Linked DNA regions of Homo sapiens: region 1 is linked to region 2. Evidence: fine-mapped QTL for protein levels in blood plasma. A gene starts in region 2. The other region holds a variant in brackets. All regions are shown on one strand. Distances are from middle to middle.

Region 1 (8,970 bases), 12 kb before region 2:
TTATCCTTTTTGTTGTTATAAATGTTATACTTCCCACTAATCTTACAACTGCTAGGATAACTCTTCATTTTTCATACTTGCATTTTTATTTTTTTTTTGAGATGGACCCAGGCTGGAGTGCAGTGGTGCAATCTTGGCTCACTGCAACCTCTGCCGCCTGGGTTCAAGCGATTCTCCTGTCTCAGCCTCCTGAGTAGCTAGGATTACAGGGGTGTGCCATCACATCCGGCTAATTTTTTGTATTTTTAGTAGAGACGGGGTTTCTCCACGTTGGCCAGGCTGGTCTCAAACTCCTGACCTCAAGCAATCCGCCCGCCCCACCCTCCCATAGTGCTGGGATTATAGGTGTGAGCCACTGCACCCAGCCAGATTAAAGTATTTAAAAACATAACCTTAAAGGTATAAGAAGAACACGCTGGTCATTTTATTGATCTTCTTCTACTGAAGAGATCCTTTTGAAACATGACATAGGCTGGGCGCGATGGTGGGTGCCTGTAGTCCCAGCTACTCAGGAGGCTGAGGCAGAGAATCACTGGAACCTGGGAGGTGGAGGTTGCAGTGAACCGAGATCGCTCCAGCCTGGGCAACAGAGTGAGACTCCGTCTCTCAAAAAAAAAAAAAAAAAAAAACATTAAAAAAAAAAAGTAGCCGGGCATGGTGGCACGTGCTTTTAATCCCAGTTACTCGGGAGGCTGAGGCTGGAGAATTGCTTGAACTAGGGAGACGGAGGTTGCAGTGGGCCAAGACTGCACCACTACACACCTGCTTGGGTGACAAAGCGAGATTCTGTCTCAAAATACACACACACACACACACACATATATATATATATATATTTTTTTTAACTGCTCATTGACAATACGCCAGATCACCTAAGAGCTCTGATGGGAGATGTACAAGGAGGTGAATGTCGCTTTCCTGCCTGCAGACACAACATCCCTTCTGCAGCCCATGGATCAAGGACTAGTTTTGACTTTCAAGTCTTATTACTTAAGAAATACCTTCTGTAAGGGTACAACTGCCATAGTCATAGTGATTCCTCTCATGGATCTGGGCAAAGTAAACTGAAAACCTTCTGGAAAGGATTCACCATTCTAGATGCCATTAAAAACATTCATGATTCATGGGTGGAGGGGTCAAAATATCAACATTAACAGGAGTGTGGAAGAAGCTGATTTCTACCCTCACGGACAGCGTTGAGGGATTCAGTGCTTCCGTGGAGAACTTGACTGCAGATGTGGTGGAAACAGCAAGGGCACTAGAACTAGAAGTGGAGCCTGAAGATGTGACTGAATTGCTGCAATCTCAGGATAAAACCTGAATGGGTAAAATGCCATCAAATAGCACCGCATGTTACAGAGACATCTTTTCTAAGATATGGTAAACTTTAGTGCGGTTTTAAGAAATTACCACAGCCCAACCTTCAGCAACCACCACCCTGATGAGTCAGCAGCCATCAAACTTGAGGCAAGATGCTCCAACAGCAAAGAGATTACGACTTGCTGAAGGCTCAGATGATCGTTAGCATTTTTTAGTAATAAAGCATTTTCAAATTAATGTGGGTACATCAGTTTTATTTAGACACAGTGCTACTGCACACTTAGTAAACTACAGTAGCGTATACACATAACTTCTTTATGCACTAGGAAACCAAAAACATTGTAGGACTTGCTTTATTGCAATGTTTACATTTTTGTGGTGGTCCAGAACTGAACCCACAGTACCTCTGAGGTCACCCGTGTTTGCTTTCTTTGCTTTTCAATTGGCAGATTTAGAAATAAAATGTGCTTGTTGCCCCTGAGCCCATGGCAGCTCAGAGAAGCCAATGGCAGGTCCCCGGGTTATGTGGGACCAACAGTTGTCTCTGGCACAGGAAGCTTTCCATGAGCTTGTTCGGGAGAGGGAGACTCACCCTCTCCTGCTGGCGCTTCACCCTGTACTGTTTGAGCTGCTCTTCCAGCCACTTCCGAGCCTGAAGTCGGACCTGCTCCTCCTTCTCCAGGGGCAGGGGAGAATCTGTAGAGCCTGCAGTGGGAAAAGGGCAATTTGGAAACTCATAAAATACCAGGATGCAGAACAATCAGGCACAAGAACTTGGTCATTTTGTACTTAATTACCCATATACTTTACACCTAAACAATGCACAGCCATCTTGTTTGGAAGGACAATTTCTAGATCAAGAGAGAACTGTGAGCCCCGGACACGGACCACAGGCGGGATCTACCTCACAGGAGACACAGTGGCCAGGCACTGGGTCTGTGATCCCATGATGAGTACACCCCACCTGGGGCATTCCCCTGGTAAAACAGGAAATGGCAGCAAGTGCCTTTTTTTTTTTTTTTTTTTTTGAGATGGAGTCTCACTCTGTCGCCCAGAATGGAGTGCAGTGGCATGATCTCGGCTCACAGCAACCTCCGCCTCCCAGGTTCACACCATTCTCCTGCCTCAGCCTCCCAAGTAGCTGGGAATACAGGCGCCCGCCACCACGCCTGGCTAATTTTTTGTATTTTTAGTAGAGACGGGGTTTCACCATGTTAGTCAGGATGGTCTCGATCTCCTGACCTCATGATCCACCCGCCTCGGCCTCCCAAAGTGCTGGGATTACAGGCGTGAGCCACCGCGCCCGGCCTTTTTTTTTTTTTTTTTTGAGACGGAGTTTCATTCTTGTTGCCCAGGCTGGAGTGCAATGGTGCGATCTCGGCTCACCACAACCTCTGCCTCCTGGGTTCAAGCGATTCTCCTGCCACAGCCTCCTGAGTAGGTGGGATTACAGGCATGCAACACGACCCCTGACGACTTTGGTATTTTTAGTAGAGACAGGGTTTCTCCATGTTGGTCAGGCTGGTCTCGAACTCCCGACCTGAGGTGATCCGCCCACCTCGGCCTCTCAAAGTGCTGAGATTATGGGCCTGAGCCACCGTGCCCGGCAGCAAGTGCCTTTTAACAACAGAAAGAACTGGGTTCAAAGCTGGAGCCGTGCCGAGCACTCTGAGGCAGGCTCAGCTCTCACCACGCTGCAACTTGCCCTGGCTTCACAGCAGGTTCTCGTGACCCCGCTGGGAGAACCTGAAACGCCGGCACCGTGGAGTTACAGGCAGTACCCAGCCACAGGAGCTCAGCCGTCGTGGGGTCACGAGACCCCGAGTGCATTTCTTTGCTCAGTTACATTTGGGGTCCGCTCTGACGCACAGCTCATCTCAGCTCCTGCAGTAACAAGTCACATTACGATAAGGCTCTGGCGGTACTCAAATGGCTGAAGCCTGGCGCCAGGCCTCACTGCAGGGTAAATGCTGCACAGGCTCCGCCCTCCAGGGCTGGGGGCGGGTTACCTCAGTTTCCAGACAGACAAGACTCCAATCCGAGGTCATGCTCCGGGACAGGAGGGGAAAATTTACAACTTTTTAGCCAAAACCAGAATTTAAAATATCTAAAACCCAGACCTTTCATTGTAGGTGATGAAAGAGTTGCATGGTACGTGCCAACGTGTTATAGTTACAAACCCAGGGCTCCACTTCCCAGGACTGAGTGTGTGGCCTCATCCTTCCTAAGCCATCAGCAGACACCGCCCGACGGCCTGGGTGCCGACCAGAGTAGGAAAGCATAATCACACAGCAACGCTTTACACATGACACCCTCCTTACAGGTAGATGCTGAGGAGATGAGCAGCTACTGTCCTAAATAATCCCTAACATCTGAGCAGTCACCAAGAATTTCACTGTAAATGTACCATTATTAGTTTATACATTTTATCACTGAAAAGATCTCTAGTCCTTTTCACATGGCAAAGTGGTCCAGATGGCTAGACCGTAAGTGGCAAATTCAGGCCTATGGCCACCAGGCAGATATTTATATAAGTCGGCAAAATAAGCAGGGTTTCAACCAAACACTGACGCAGGAGATAGGCTCAGGGCCAGGCGCCAGCAGGAACAGGTGACCAGGGGCATCCCGCAAAGGTGTGCACGTAGACCCAGCGCTGCTGCCCCAGACACCTGGGCCAGAGCTCACACATCTGTAACTTCAGGACCCCAAAGTAAATAAACTAAGTTGAAAAAAATCAGGAATCTAGACTTTTTTACATGCTACTTCTCAACTTAAATGCTGGCAGTGAGTTTTCAGAATTGTTTCAAATAAACACATGTGAAATGCAGTCTGATTTCAGTAATTTAGGGTTTTTTGTTGTTGTTATTTAGTTTTAAGAAATTTTTAAAAATATACTGCAGGCCAGGTACAGTGGCTCACGCCTATAATCCCAGTATTTTGGGAGGCCAAGGTATGACGATCACTTGAGCCCAGGAGTTCAAGACCAGCCTGGGAAACATGGTGAGACCCCGTTTCTACACACACAAAAAATTAAAATTAGCCAGGTGTGGTGACACGCACCTGTGGTCCAAGCTACTTGACAGCAGAGGCAGGAAGATCCCTTGAACCTGGGAGGCAGAGGCTGCAGTGAGCTCTGACTCTGCCACTGGCCTCCAGCCTGGGCGACAGAGCAAGATCCTGACTCTAATTAAAAAACAAAACAGGCTGGGCCTGGTGGCTCACGCCTGTAATCCCAACACTTTGGGAGGCCAAGGCAGGCAGACCATGAGGTCAGGAGATCAATACCATCTTGACTAACACGGTGAAACCCCATCTTTGCTAAAAATACAAAAAATTAGCCGGGCCTGGTGGCGGGTGCATGTAGTCCCAGCTACTCGGGAGGCCGAGGCAGGTGAATGGCATGAACCCAGGAGGCGGAGATTGCAGTGAGCCGAGACAGCGCCACTGCAGTCCGGCCTGGGCGAAAGAGCGAGACTCTGTCTCAGAAAAAAAAAGCAAACCAAAAAAAACCAAAACAACAGACTGGATGCCCACCGTCTGCTTACCAAGCACCTGGGTGACACAGGACATGCAGGCTGGCCTTTAACGCAAAAGCGTCAGCACTGCTGCCAGTCAGACCACAGCAGAACCTTGACTCCACCTGCATCTTCACTCTCTAACTTGAAGCTCTCCTTGCTAAACTCACAGCCCCACGTGGGACTCAGATGGCACACGGCAGGCACAGGCACACAACAGCTCAGACAGTGAGTGCGCAGGGCACCTGCTCCCAAGGGGCTGAGCGACGCGGACGTGGAGGGTGGGAAAAGCGGGGTAACGGATGCTTACACAGTTGCGTTTCTTGCATAGGAAGACTGAGTCTGAGAGACTGCAAAGCTTCTTTTCTAACACTGCCCTCAGCACTAGTTCCCTGAGACTTCCTTAGGTTGTCATGGAAACCAGCCACACCTGGAGAGGCATCAGGGCCCACTGGGCTTGTGGTGGGATCGAGAGACGACGGAGGGTCTGGGAAGGGTGGCGTTGGC[C/T]CGTTCTGACAGAGGCCTCCCTGGCCAGGTCCATCCGGGCTTTCCCCTTCCGTGGATGCTCTGTTTACCTCGGCACCTGGAAAGACAGAGCACGCTGGACCACCATGGCTTTAACAACAAGGTGACGTCGCTTTTCAGACATGCAGCTGGAGTAGGAGAGAAGAGGATCCAGACTCATGAGCACGGCACTTTCTCATCCCACAAAGGCTTCACTCTGAGAGGAGCAGCCCATGGGCCCCGTCCCACAGGCGGGGTGGCCAGGATAAGGCCCACAGCCCCTCTGGTGTCCACGTCCTTCCTGTAAGGTGAACCTGCCCTCCACACCTCCACACTCTAACGTGAACCCGCCCTCCACACCTCTACGCTCTAACGTGAACTCACCCTCCACACCTCCACACTCTAATGTGAACCCGCCCTCCACTCCTCCACGCTCTAAGGTGAACCCGCCCTCCACACCTCCACGCTCTAAGGTGAACCCGCCCTCCACACCTCCACGCTCTAAGGTGAACCCCCCCTCCACACCTCCACACTCTAACGTGAACCCGCCCTCCACTCCTCCACGCTCTAAGGTGAACCCGCCCTCCACACCTCCACGCTCTAAGGTGAACCCGCCCTCCACACCTCCACACTCTAAGGTGAACCCGCCCTCCACACCTCCACACTCTAACGTGAACCCGCCCTCCACTCCTCCACGCTCTAAGGTGAACCCGCCCTCCACACCTCCACGCTCTAAGGTGAACCCGCCCTCCACTCCTCCACGCTCTAAGGTGAACCCGCACTCCACACCTCCACGCTCTAAGGTGAACCCACCCTCCACACCTCCACACTCTAACGTGAACCCGCCCTCCACTCCTCCACGCTCTAAGGTGAACTCACCCTCCACACCTCCACGCTCTAAGGTGAACCCCCCCCCCACACCTCCACACTCTAAGGTGAACTCACCCTCCACTCCTCCACGCTCTAAGGTGAACCCGCCCTCCACACCTCCACGCTCTAAGGTGAACCCACCCTCCACACCTCCACGCTCTAAGGTGAACCCGCCCTCCACTCCTCCACGCTCTAAGGTGAACCCGCACTCCACACCTCCACACTCTAACGTGAACCCGCCCTCCACTCCTCCACGCTCTAAGGTGAACTCACCCTCCACACCTCCACGCTCTAAGGTGAACCCCCCCCCCACACCTCCACACTCTAAGGTGAACTCACCCTCCACTCCTCCACGCTCTAAGGTGAACCCCCCCCCACACCTCCACACTCTAAGGTGAACTCACCCTCCACTCCTCCACGCTCTAAGGTGAACCCACCCTCCACACCTGTACGCTCTAACGTGAACCCGCCCTCCACACCTCCACGCTCTAAGGTGAACCCCCCCTCCACTCCTCCATGCTCTAAGGTGAACCCACCCTCCACTCCTCCATGCTCTAAGGTGAACTCGCCCTCCACACCTCTACACTATAAGGTGAACTCACCCTCCACACCTCCACACTCTTGGCTGTAGAATTTATGTAGTAACGACAGTAACATTTCCTCTTCTCTTTTTTGAGACGGAGTCTCATTCTGCTGCCCAGGCTGGAGTTCAGTCACACAAGCTCAGCTCACTGCAAGCTCCACTCACCAGATTCAAGCGATTCTCCTGCTTCAGCCTCCCCAGTAGCTGGGATTACAGGTGCCCACCACCACACCTGGCTAATTTTTGGTCTTTTTAGTAGAGATGGGGTTTCACCATGTTGGCCAGTCTGGTCTCAAACTCCTCCCCATTCACCAGCCTCGGCCTCCCACAGTGCTGGGATTACAGGCGTGAGCCACCGCACCCAGCCAATGTTTCCTTTCCATTTAAGTAAAACCAATAAGAAATCTTATGAAAGTCGCCAGTTTAAAACAAGCGAAAACCACAAACACTTAAAACACAGCTGACAATCTTTCTAGCAGGCACTGGTAACAGCAGTGTTAATCAGAGTCACAGCCTCACATTTACAAAGGCTGATTTTGGAGTCATTTCAAAGCCTCAGCTTATCCTCCAAGGCGAGGACCCTAAGGCGAAGAGGTGGATGATGTCATCACACCACCCGTGAAGCAGAGACAGCCCAGAACCGCGCTTCTGCTTGATGACAGCCTGCTGGGTAAAGGCCTGGGTTGGACCAGTGACAATTCTATACCCACGTGTTACCTCAGTTCACCCACTAAAATGATTATATACAAATTACCCACAACACAAACTAAAACATATTTCCTCATCAAATGGAACAAAGAAAGATTTCTTTCAATGAAGTGATTTTCAGTCTTTTCCCTGCCCCCTAACTGCTGACTGGTGGGTGGGCCAGTTCACAGTCAAAGAACCAAGACATGTGAGGGGGGAGGGAGGGTCCTCAGGGGGTTCTGGTCCTGGTTCCGGTGGCTCTGGAGGCCCGGCAACACCTCCGTGTCTCACAGGGGTCAGCATTCCTCGGATCCCACGTGCATGCAGGACAGCAAATTTGCTTTTTGCTCAAGCAAATTAAAAATGAGTTTCTTAGCCGGGCGCGGTGGCTCACGCCTGTAATCCCAGCACTTTGGGAAGCTGAGGCAGGTGGATCACGAGGTCAGGAGATCGAGACTATCCTGGCTAACACGGCGAAACCCCGTCTCTACTAAAAATACAAAGACTTAGCTGGGCGTGGTGGCGGGCGCCTATAGTCCCAGCTACTTGGGAGGCTGAGGCAGAAGAATGGCGTGAACCCTCGAAGTGGAGCTTGCAGTAAGCTGAGGTCGTGCCACTGCACTCCAGTCTGGGCAACAGAGCGAGACTCCGTCTCAAAAAAAGAAAAGGTTTCTTTCACTTGCAAATGTGAGTTCAAACTAACAGCAGATACTTACTGTCATGCCTCCCGAAAGAAAAACCAGAATAAAAGCAGGGGTGCCAGACAGGAAGCCAGACCACGGGCACCCGACCAACGCACTGAGACGCCTTTCATGCAAAGGACCCGTGAGCTCCACTGCTGGGAGAGGGGGAACCTTGCATTTCAGATAAAAGTTACTGGGTTAGGCCGGGCGCAGTGGCTCACACCTGTAATCCCAGCACTTTGGGAGGCCGAGGTGGAAGGATAACTCAAGGCCAGGAATTCAAGACCAGCCCGGGCAACAGCAAGACTGTTTATACAAAAAGTTTTTAAAATGAGCCAGGCAACAGGGCGCGGTGGCTCACGCCTGCAATCCCAGCACTTTGGGAGGCCAAGGTGGGGGGATCACCAGAGATTGGGAGTTCAAAACCAGCCTGATCAACATGGAAACTCCATCTCTACTAAAAATACAAAATTAGCTGGGCGTGGTGGCACATGCCTGTAATCCCAGCTACTCAGGAGGCTGAGGCAGAAGATCGCTTGAACCCGGGAGGCGGAGGTTGCCATGAGCCGAGATCGCACCATTGCACTACAGCCTGGACAACAACAGCAAAACTCCGTCTCAAAAAAAAAAAAATCAGCTAGGCGTGCTGACACGCATCGATAGTCACCGCTACCCCAGAGACCAAGGCAGGAGGATCACTTAAGCCCAGGAGTTCATGGCTGCCGTGAGCTATGATTACACCACTGCACTTCAGCCTGCTCAATGGAGCAACACCCTGACTCTAAAAACAGTAATAAAATGTTTAAAA
Region 2 (8,970 bases):
GAGCTTCCATTCATTCTGCAGAAATGTTGGCATTTATTCCTTTAAAATCAGTTTCATATTAACCTACATTATGTTCTGTGTTTAACATTTTTCATGAGAAACATTACACAACCTTCGCCTCTAGCTTACAAATCCCACACAGAAGGTATAGACAAGAAGCCCACATGGGGCCGGGTGCGGTGGCTCATGCTTGTAATCCCAGCACTTTGGGAGGCCAAGGCGGGCGGATCACCTGCGGTCAGGAGTTTGAGACCAGCCTGGCCAACATGGTGAAACCCCATCTCTACTAAAAATACAAAAAACTAGCCAGGCGTGGTGGCAGGCGCCTGTAATCCCAGCTACTTGGGAGCCTGAGGCAGGAGAATCACTTGAACCTGGGAGGCGGAGGTTGCACTGAACCAAGACCACGCCATTGCACTCCAGCCTGGGCAACAAGAGTGGAAACTCCGTCTAAAAAAAAAAAAGGGCTGCGTGTGATGGCTCATGCCTGTAATCCCATAACTTTGGGGGGTCAAGGTGGGTGGATCACTTGAGGTCAGAATTTCAAGACCAGCCTGGCCAACAAGGTGAAACCTCGTCTCTACTAAAAATACAAAAATTAGCCAGGCATGGCAGCGCGTGCCTGTAATCCCAGCTACTCAGGAGGCTAAGGCAGGAACATCGCTTGAACCTGGGAGACAGAGGTTGCGTGAGCCAAAATTGTGCCACTGCACTCCAGCCTGGGAGACAAGCACAAAACTCCATCTCAAAAAACAAAAAACAACAAAAAAAAGAGAAGCCCACGTGGCTGGTCCTCGAGAGCATGTGTGTCACTGACCCCGCAGCAGGACGTGCCTGTCTTTCTAGGGGTTTTTACTCTACCTGCCATCTAGACTGGTCACCCGTAAAAGAGGAAACCTATGGGTGGTGGGTGTAACCCAGTCCACTGACACAGTCAATGACTCACTGAAGGGCGTGCAGACCTGTGAGTATCTGCTCATAACTATAATAATCCACCATTCCTCTCTGCCACCTTGCATCCTACAGGCCAGAGACAGTTATGAGTTCATAACAGTGTTGTTCAGAATATTAAAAGGTTACGTATGCTATTAGTGTAAAACTAGCATTAAGGGTTTGTAACCAGAAAGCACTGTGAATAGAAATGTGTCCTAACATTAGTAACTATAAATCTCGCATAGCTAATCAAGAAACTACTGTAAACAAAGGATCCTAGATGTCTTGACTCAGGGTGCCTGGCACATAAAAATATTTAAAGATTAAAGCAATGTCTGAAGCACAGAAGTGAAGGAAGTTACCAAGGCTGGTCAAAAGCTAATCCTGTGTGCAACGAATTCTCAATCTCATGTTTGCGTCTATGATCATCTAGTAACATCTCTCATCCCTGGATTTTCCGGGTGGGTGGGTGATAAATGGGCCTTAGAGCCTAGGCAGGGATCTGAACTACACACCTGTCCTTACACACAGCACAGAACCCTCTGAAAATCACTTTCCAGGAAAAACACTGCGATCTCCACCAAGCCTGCCCCTCAGCTACAATCCCAGACACACTCCAAGAGAACTGGGGGTCAGCCGGCCACGCCCACCTGGGAATGGAGAAGACACCCACAAAACAAGGGGAGGAGCATCAGCAAAATGATGGCTGCTTATCACAGGCTTGCCCCTTTGACAGATGAATTACAAACTGGCACGGAGGACTACACGCGGTGGAATGTGGACTCGACTGCGCCACTGAATACTGGTACCCTGTACATCTGGTCCTCTTGAAAATTTCCTAGCAAAAGAAAACTTGCGTTTTGCTTTGTGATGTCTTTGCTTCTGCCTTGCGGGGGTGGGGTGATTATATGGAACCGACCGTGTGTGCCTACGCGTGCAGACCCTCCTGGCCCCTCAGGTAAAGGAACCGACGGTGTGTGCCTGCGCGTGCAGACCCTCCTGGCCCCGCAGGTAAAGTGTCTCGTCTACCCCCTCTGCCATCACTGTACCTCACGTGGCCTCCACCACAGCACGTCATGTCTGCCATTGCGTGTGTGCCCATTACATGGCGAGATCCTTGAAGACAGAGACTCATTCCCCGTCTGCCTCCCACCACCTTGAACACTCCCAACTCCTAAAGTGCCAACACAGGTTTAATTTGCCGAATTAAATCTTCAGTTCTGCTGATTCTGCTGAGTACATTCCTCTGCTACAAAGCTAATGGTTCCAAAACAAAATGATTAAGTATTTGAATCCTGGAGCATCAACACTGCCTTTTAAAATACAGCAAAGTCTAAACTAGTCCAGCTGAAACATCTGTGAGCTTCAGTTCCAATGAGGGAGTCCAGGGAGTTAGAAACTGGAAGAGCACCTTTTTTCAGTGGCCGGGAAGATGGCGGACATTCAGACTGAGCGTGCCTACCAAAAGCAGCCGACCATCTTTCAAAACAAGAAGAGGGTCCTGCTGGGAGAAACTGGCAAGGAGAAGCTCCTGCGGTACTACAAGAACATTGGTCTGGGCTTCAAGACACCCAAAGAGGCTACTGAGGGCACCTACATTGACAAGAAATGCCCCTTCACTGGTGATGTCTCCATTCGAGGGCGGATCCTCTCTGGCGTGGTGACCAAGATGAAGACGCAGAGGACCACTGTCATCCGCCGAGACTACCTGCACTACATCCGCAAGTACAACCACTTCGAGAAGCACCACAAGAACATGTCTGTACACCTGTTCCCCTGCTTCAGGGACGTCCAGATCGGTGACATCGTCACAGTGGGCGAGTGCCGGCCTTGCCGGCCTCTGAGCAAGACAGTGCACCTCAACGTGCTCCAGGTCACCAAGGCTGCCAGCACCAAGAAGCAGTTCCAGAAGTTCTGAGGCTGGACATCAGCCCGCTCCCCACAATGAAATAAAGTTATTTTCTCATTCTCCAAAAAAAAAAAAAAAAAAGAAACTGGAAGAGCAGCATCACGGCCACGGCCCAGACAGGCACCACCACCTGAACAGAAGGAAGGATGGGATGACCAGCAGGACTGGACTCAGCCATTACAGGTGGAACATGCAGAGGAGAACTGCTGCAGAGGAGAACTGCTGCAGAGGCCCACAGTGACGACGCCTGGGCCTTACACTGACCAAGAAGGAACACAGCCAAAGACGCTCAGGTTCCACCGAGAGGGCACGCCAACATGGTGACAGCCAACCGCACCGAGCTGAGTCCAGTGCAATCACAGATTCTGCTCACTTAATTCCCCTGCTGGTGTCCAAGCAGCCCACCTCTCCAGAACAGAGACCCCATGACGGTGACTGTAAGTCACAAAGACGGCCCCTCTTTACAGGCAGCTCCTCCTGAAGCCGGACCAGAGAGAGAATTCACTAACTGCCTGGAGTTTGGTGACAGTGATACTTCTCCCTGTAGGGCAATAAGCTGGCAGTCTCGGTCGATTCCCAGTCTTGCTTGATTTTTAGTTAAAATTTGGAATGACTCAGTCGTCAGGGCCTCATTACCTCAGACTACTGACAAAAAGCGATCTCCGGGCAGCGAGGAGGAGGAGCAACTGCCAGTGCATCACAGAAAGCTGGTACTACAAACATGGCTCTATTTTAAATAAAGAGGCCAGTCTAATCAGTCTCACTTATGATCACTCGCACTCCTGCGTCTCTAGAGAGAAGAGACAGGACAAAGCTGTCACTTAGAACTGCGAAAGGTACACACAACCCTAGGTTCACAGCTGGGTAACATCAAGGGACTTCATACTGAGAAACCACCACCTCAGGCACCTACAGGACTTTCTGCTTCCCCCACACCTGAATTCTGTATACAAACATTCACGGCTCCATCTACACCACCTCGTTTCACCTGTTCCTATCGGGTATTAGAAACAACAGAGCACAGCCAAAAACCAAACACGATTTCCTCAGGAAAAGAGTACCTGGTGGAGGCCACACTAGTATCCAAAAGTAAACACAGATCTATACACAAAGTGAAAACCAAAAGCAAGCAAGCCTCATGTCACTGCAGAGACGTGAAGGGCAGGCTTGGAAGTCAGGACTCCGGCCTCAGCTCCCGACCCTCCACCACTTACCTGTGAGAGCCTGGGCTAAAGATTTCTTAATCACATTTAGCCTGTTTCCTCACCAGTAAAACAATGAGAAAATGAACGCAAAATTTTGCCAGGATTAAATATAACAAGGCACAGAGTCTGTCCCGTGTCCTCAATAAAATGACAGTAATTATCACGATTTTCCCTTTAGTTGTTGCTTGTCAAAATCGCTAAAAGCCAACTGAAGGCATTCTCACTTGGGAAAGTATGCTACTTCTTAAGGCAATCGGGGGAAAAAAAGCTCCTCTTCAATCTGAGTGATGTCAGATGATTTATTTCCTTCTTGCCATTTAAGGTATACTGCCTGAAAAGATATTAAAGGGTTATAAAGCGCTATGTTGATGTCGTTTAAAAGACAGTTCAAAATAATCCACGACGACGGGTGTGGCTGCTCACACCTGTAACACCAGCACTTTGGGAGGCTGGGGTGGGAGGATCGCTTGAGGCCAGGAGTTCCACACCAGCCTGGGCAATACAGCAACACACCCAGTCTCTTAAAAAAAAAAAAAAAATCCATGAGTCATCTGTAAATGGCTTACACTGGCCCAGTGACAATAAACTCCAACCTCTTAAGAATCCAGCACCTGCCTACACCAACATCCTTACCGCCATCGCTTTCCCCCTTTGCCATTACACTGTGGCCACATCCTCCGCCCTCAGGGTCTTCAAACTTTCTGCCTGAGGCGCGCTTTTCTCACAATTTTGCCTGGCTTGCTTCTCGTCATAGAGGCCTTAGCACGGAAGTCGCCCGCCCCCCAGGCTCCCACTTAGAGTAGCGGACCCCACCCAACCACCGCCCGGTACCCTCTCGCTGGCGACCCTGGGTGTCCCTGTCCTAGGTGGGCTCCGCGGGGGCAGTGACCCAGACCCACAATACCCAGGACCCGCCACACGACTGACATTCGTCGGGTTCATACCCGTGACAACGCCCGGCCCCACTCGCTCTGGCCACCTGGAATGAAGACAAGTCGGCCAGCGACAAAGACAAACAAGGAAGTACACGGACTCCTGAAACCCCGACTTCCCACGAACCACCCGACACCATGTCACGCCTTTCAGCTGCAAAGGGCCAGGCTAAAGCAAGCACTGCCCGAGTGGTGGCAGTGGACAGCTTCGGGACAGGCCGCGCTCGTCGGGCGCAGACAAGCATTCAGGAGGGCTCGCGGGCACCGGCATTTACAGAGCCAGCTCCGCCGCAGCTGAAGGCGGGCGCCCAGGCCCGAGGCCACCGCAGCGAGGCGGGGGTGACTGGAACGGGGCCGTCCCGCCACGCTGCAGGGACGCGCCCAGGCCCCGCCGCCGCCCCTCGAGCCTCCCCCGCCCATGCACTGCGGGAGCGGGAGCGGGAGCGGGAGCCCGAGCCCCGAGGCGCCGCGGCCTCCGAGCCCCTCACCCTGCTGCTCTGGCAGCCCCGGAGGCCGCCCGGCCCGGATGCTCCGGCGGAGACGTGGCCGTGAGAGGGGCGGGGCGAGCGGTGCATCGGCCTCGGGTCCCCGGAAACAGCCTGCACGCGCTACTTTCGTTCCGGAACAGAGAACGTCCTCCTCTTCTTCAAGTGGCCACCCTAGGGCCGGGGACCCTCTGCCCACAGGGTCCGGATCGAGCTCACCTCCGACTGTGATGAGGCCGCCTTCAGAAAGTGACCTTAAGAGTTTGCGGACCTTTCCCTAGTAGAAACGCAACTTCCGGAACTGCAGGACCAACTCTTTCAGGAAGCTGAACCGAGCTTCCGGCGGAAGTGGCGTGGCCGGGGCTCGGCATGGGCGCGGCCGAGCTCGGTGTGGGCGTGACTTCCCCGCCCGCCCTAGTCGGGTCCCCGCCCCAACCCCGCACCTCCACCCGGCCGGCGCCCTTCGCGCTTCAGGTGCCAGATCAAAGGCGACGCTGCTTTGGACCCTATTTGCTTCCCCTTTAAAAAGGGCAAAGCTGGACGGCGCGGGCCGCTGGCCGCTGGGGAACGGCTTTCCACCTTCCCTCATCCGCCAGGCCGCTCTTCCAGCTGTCAGGAAGGAAATGGCCTGGAGGGCGCCTCGGGGTCCTCTGTGATGTTGCGCTCATCTCTGCGGATTTTGGAATACGCTTCAGTCTACGAAGTTTTCTGGGATTTTGATGGGAACTGCTGCAGATCGTTTGGGGAGCACGGGCATCGCTGACTCGGTCCTTCATCTGCGTCCCTGGTGGCCCCTCCATTTATTTCGGTCTTTTGATTTCTTCCACCAGCATTTTGTAATTTCAGCATACAGATTCTGCACCTTTTAAGTTTATAGTATTTCACATCAAACAACTGTAACACTGCGTTTTTGACGTTTTCCACGTGTTCACTGTTGGTCTACACAAATGTGATGAATTCTATGTTGATTTTCTTATCCTGAGACCTCGCTGAACTCATTAGTTTGAGGGTTCATTTGGTGTTTTGCGGTTGTTGTTGTAAAATCCTTGTATTTTTTACATGGGCCATCATGTTATCTGCAAATGCAAATTCTAACACAAAATGATCAGACTGAGGCGTAAAATATACAACTTTTAGAAGAAAACAGAATTTCTCACATCTAGAGCTTGGGGAAGAGTTCTTAGATCTGACCAAAAAAACACAATTCACAAAAGAAGTTGATAGAGTAAACTTCATGAAAAAATTAGAAACTTTTCACCGGATGCGGTGGCTCACGCCTGTAATCCCAACACTTTGGGAGGCCAAGGTGGGCGGATTACCTGAGGTCAGGAGTTTGAGACCAGCCAGGCCAAATGGTGAAACCCATCTCTACTAAAAATATAATAATTAGCCGGGCATGGTGGCATGTGCCTGTAATCCCAGCTACTCAGGAGGCTGGAGGAGAATCGCTTGAATCCAGGAGGCGGAGAGGTTGCAGTGAGCGGAGATCGTGCCACCAGCCTGGGCAACAGAGCAAGACTCCGTCTCAAAAAAAAAAAAAAAAGCCGGGCACAGTGTCTCACGCCTGTAATTCCAGCACCTTGAGAGGCCGAGGCAGGTGGATCACAAGGTCAAGAGATCAAGACTATCCTGGCCAACATGGTGAACCCTGTCTCTATGAAAAATACAAAAAAATTAGCTGGGCGTGGTGGTGTGTGCCTGTAGTCCCAACTACTCGGGAGGCTGAGGCAGGGGGATCACTTGAACCTGGGAGGCAGAGGTTGCAGTGAGCTGAGATCGTGCCACTGCACTCCAGCCTGGGCGACAGAGCGAGACTCCATCTCAAAACAAACAAACCAACCTTGTGAGAAAGACCACATTAAGAGGATGAAAAGATGAGTTACAGACTGTGAGAAAATATTTTCAAACCACGTTTGTTGAAGGACTAGTAGCTAGAATATATAAAGAACTCTCAAAACTTGACAGTAAAAAAAAATACAATTATTCTGGGCACAATGGCTCATGCCTGTAATCTCAGCACTTTGGGAGGCTAAGGGGGCAAATCACTTGAGGCCAGGAGTTTGAGACCAGCCTGGCCAACATGGAGAAACCCTGTCTCTACTAAAAATACAAAAATTAGCCAGGCGTGGTGACGCACACCTGTAATGCCAGCTATTTGGGTGGCTGAGGCACAAGAATTGCTTGAATCTGGGAGGCGGAGGTTGCAGTGAGCTGAGATTGTGTCACTGCACTCCAACCTGGGTGACAAAATGAGACTCCATCTCAAAAAAAAAAAAACCATACACACACACAAACAGAAGACAAGCAAAAAACATGAAAACACATTTCACTAAAAGGATATATGAGTGGCAAATAAGCTTGTGACCAGGTTCAGCATCACTAGCCATTACAGAAATGCACATTAAGACTATCTTGAGGTCAGGCGCGGTGGCTCAAGCCTGTAATTCCAGCACTTTGAGAGGCCGAAGCAGGTGGATCACCTGAGGTCAGGAGTTCGAGACCAGCCTGACTAACATGGTGAAATCCTGCTTCTACTAAAAATACAAAAATTAGCTGGGCATGGTGGCAGGTACCTGTAATACCAACTACTTGGGAGGCTGAGGCAGGAGAATCGCTTGAACCTGGGAGGTGGAGGCTGCAGTGAGCTGGGATCACACCATTGCACTCCAGCCTGGGTGACACAGTCAGACTCTGTCTCAAAAAAAAAAAAAAAAAAAGACTGCCTTGGGATATTAGTATACACCTATTAGAACAGCTGAAATAATATACAGCAGTGGCAATATGAAATGCTGGGAATAATGTATTCTGGAGTAACTAATCTCTTATACATTGCTGATGGGAACAGCAATAGTGCACCCACTCTGGAATATAGTTGGGCAGTTTCTTCAAAAAGTAAACAATTTTATGACCCAGCAACTGCATTCCTAGACATTGAACTCAGAGAAATAAACTTATGTCTACACAAAAGCCTGTACATTACTGACCCCAAACTGGAAACAACCAAAATGTCCTCTGACATGGTGAAACAAACCATGGACCCCCCACGCCACTCTGACATGGTGAAACAAACCGTGGACCACCCACGCCACTCTGACGTGGCAAAACAAACTGTGGACCACCCACGCCACTCTGACGTGGTGAAACAAACCATGGACCACCCATGCCACTCTGACGTGGTGAAACAAACCGTGGACCACCCATGCCATGGACACTACTCAGCAATAAAAAGGAGCTGACCACTGATGTGTGCAATAACTTGGACGAAGCTCCAAGGCATTACATCCAGGGAGGAAAACATCTCCGAAGGTCTACACTGCATGAACTGTACGATGTGTCCACTTATGTCACAAAATGACAGCATTATAGAGTGGTGGTGGGGTTCGGATGACTAAAAAGGGGTAGATGGAGAGAGATTTTTGTGGTGATGGAACTGTTCTGTATTTTGTGACCGTGGTTACGTGAATGTCCTCATGTGATAAAATGACAGAATGAAGAAAACACTCCAC

Direction of the effects. Alleles are on the strand shown, and positions count from the first base shown. The strength of an association depends on the size of the effect and on how common the allele is.
In carriers of allele C in region 1, the plasma level of the protein whose gene starts at base 5,534 in region 2 tends to be lower than with T alone (moderate association).

Evidence for each region. A credible set is the group of variants that fine-mapping cannot tell apart. PIP is the chance, under the fine-mapping model, that this variant and not a neighbour inherited with it causes the effect. The UK Biobank Pharma Proteomics Project read protein levels with antibody pairs (Olink). The fine-mapping took linkage between variants from a reference panel, not from the people measured, so its PIPs are less certain.
Region 1: its variant is the best candidate, but not a certain one, in a credible set for the plasma level of the GOLGA3 protein (UK Biobank, PIP 0.69). The variant lies in the coding sequence of GOLGA3. If it changes the protein, the assay may bind it differently, which can mimic a change of level.

What each region holds. Positions count from the first base shown.
Region 1 is chr12:132,811,395-132,820,364 of GRCh38, forward strand. GOLGA3 (golgin A3) reads right to left here. Exons shown (of 24, transcript NM_001389683.1): 3 at 5,146-5,418; 4 at 1,913-2,025. Among named protein-coding and RNA genes, the nearest start is that of GOLGA3, 13 kb to the right of the region's middle. The variant C/T (reference allele first, on the strand shown) is at 5,343.
Region 2 is chr12:132,823,336-132,832,305 of GRCh38, forward strand. GOLGA3 (golgin A3) reads right to left here and starts at 5,534. Exons shown (of 24, transcript NM_001389683.1): 1 at 5,468-5,534. It also overlaps the pseudogene RPS11P5. RefSeq lists silencers at 4,812-4,911, 5,412-5,471, 5,842-6,051 and an enhancer at 5,622-5,761.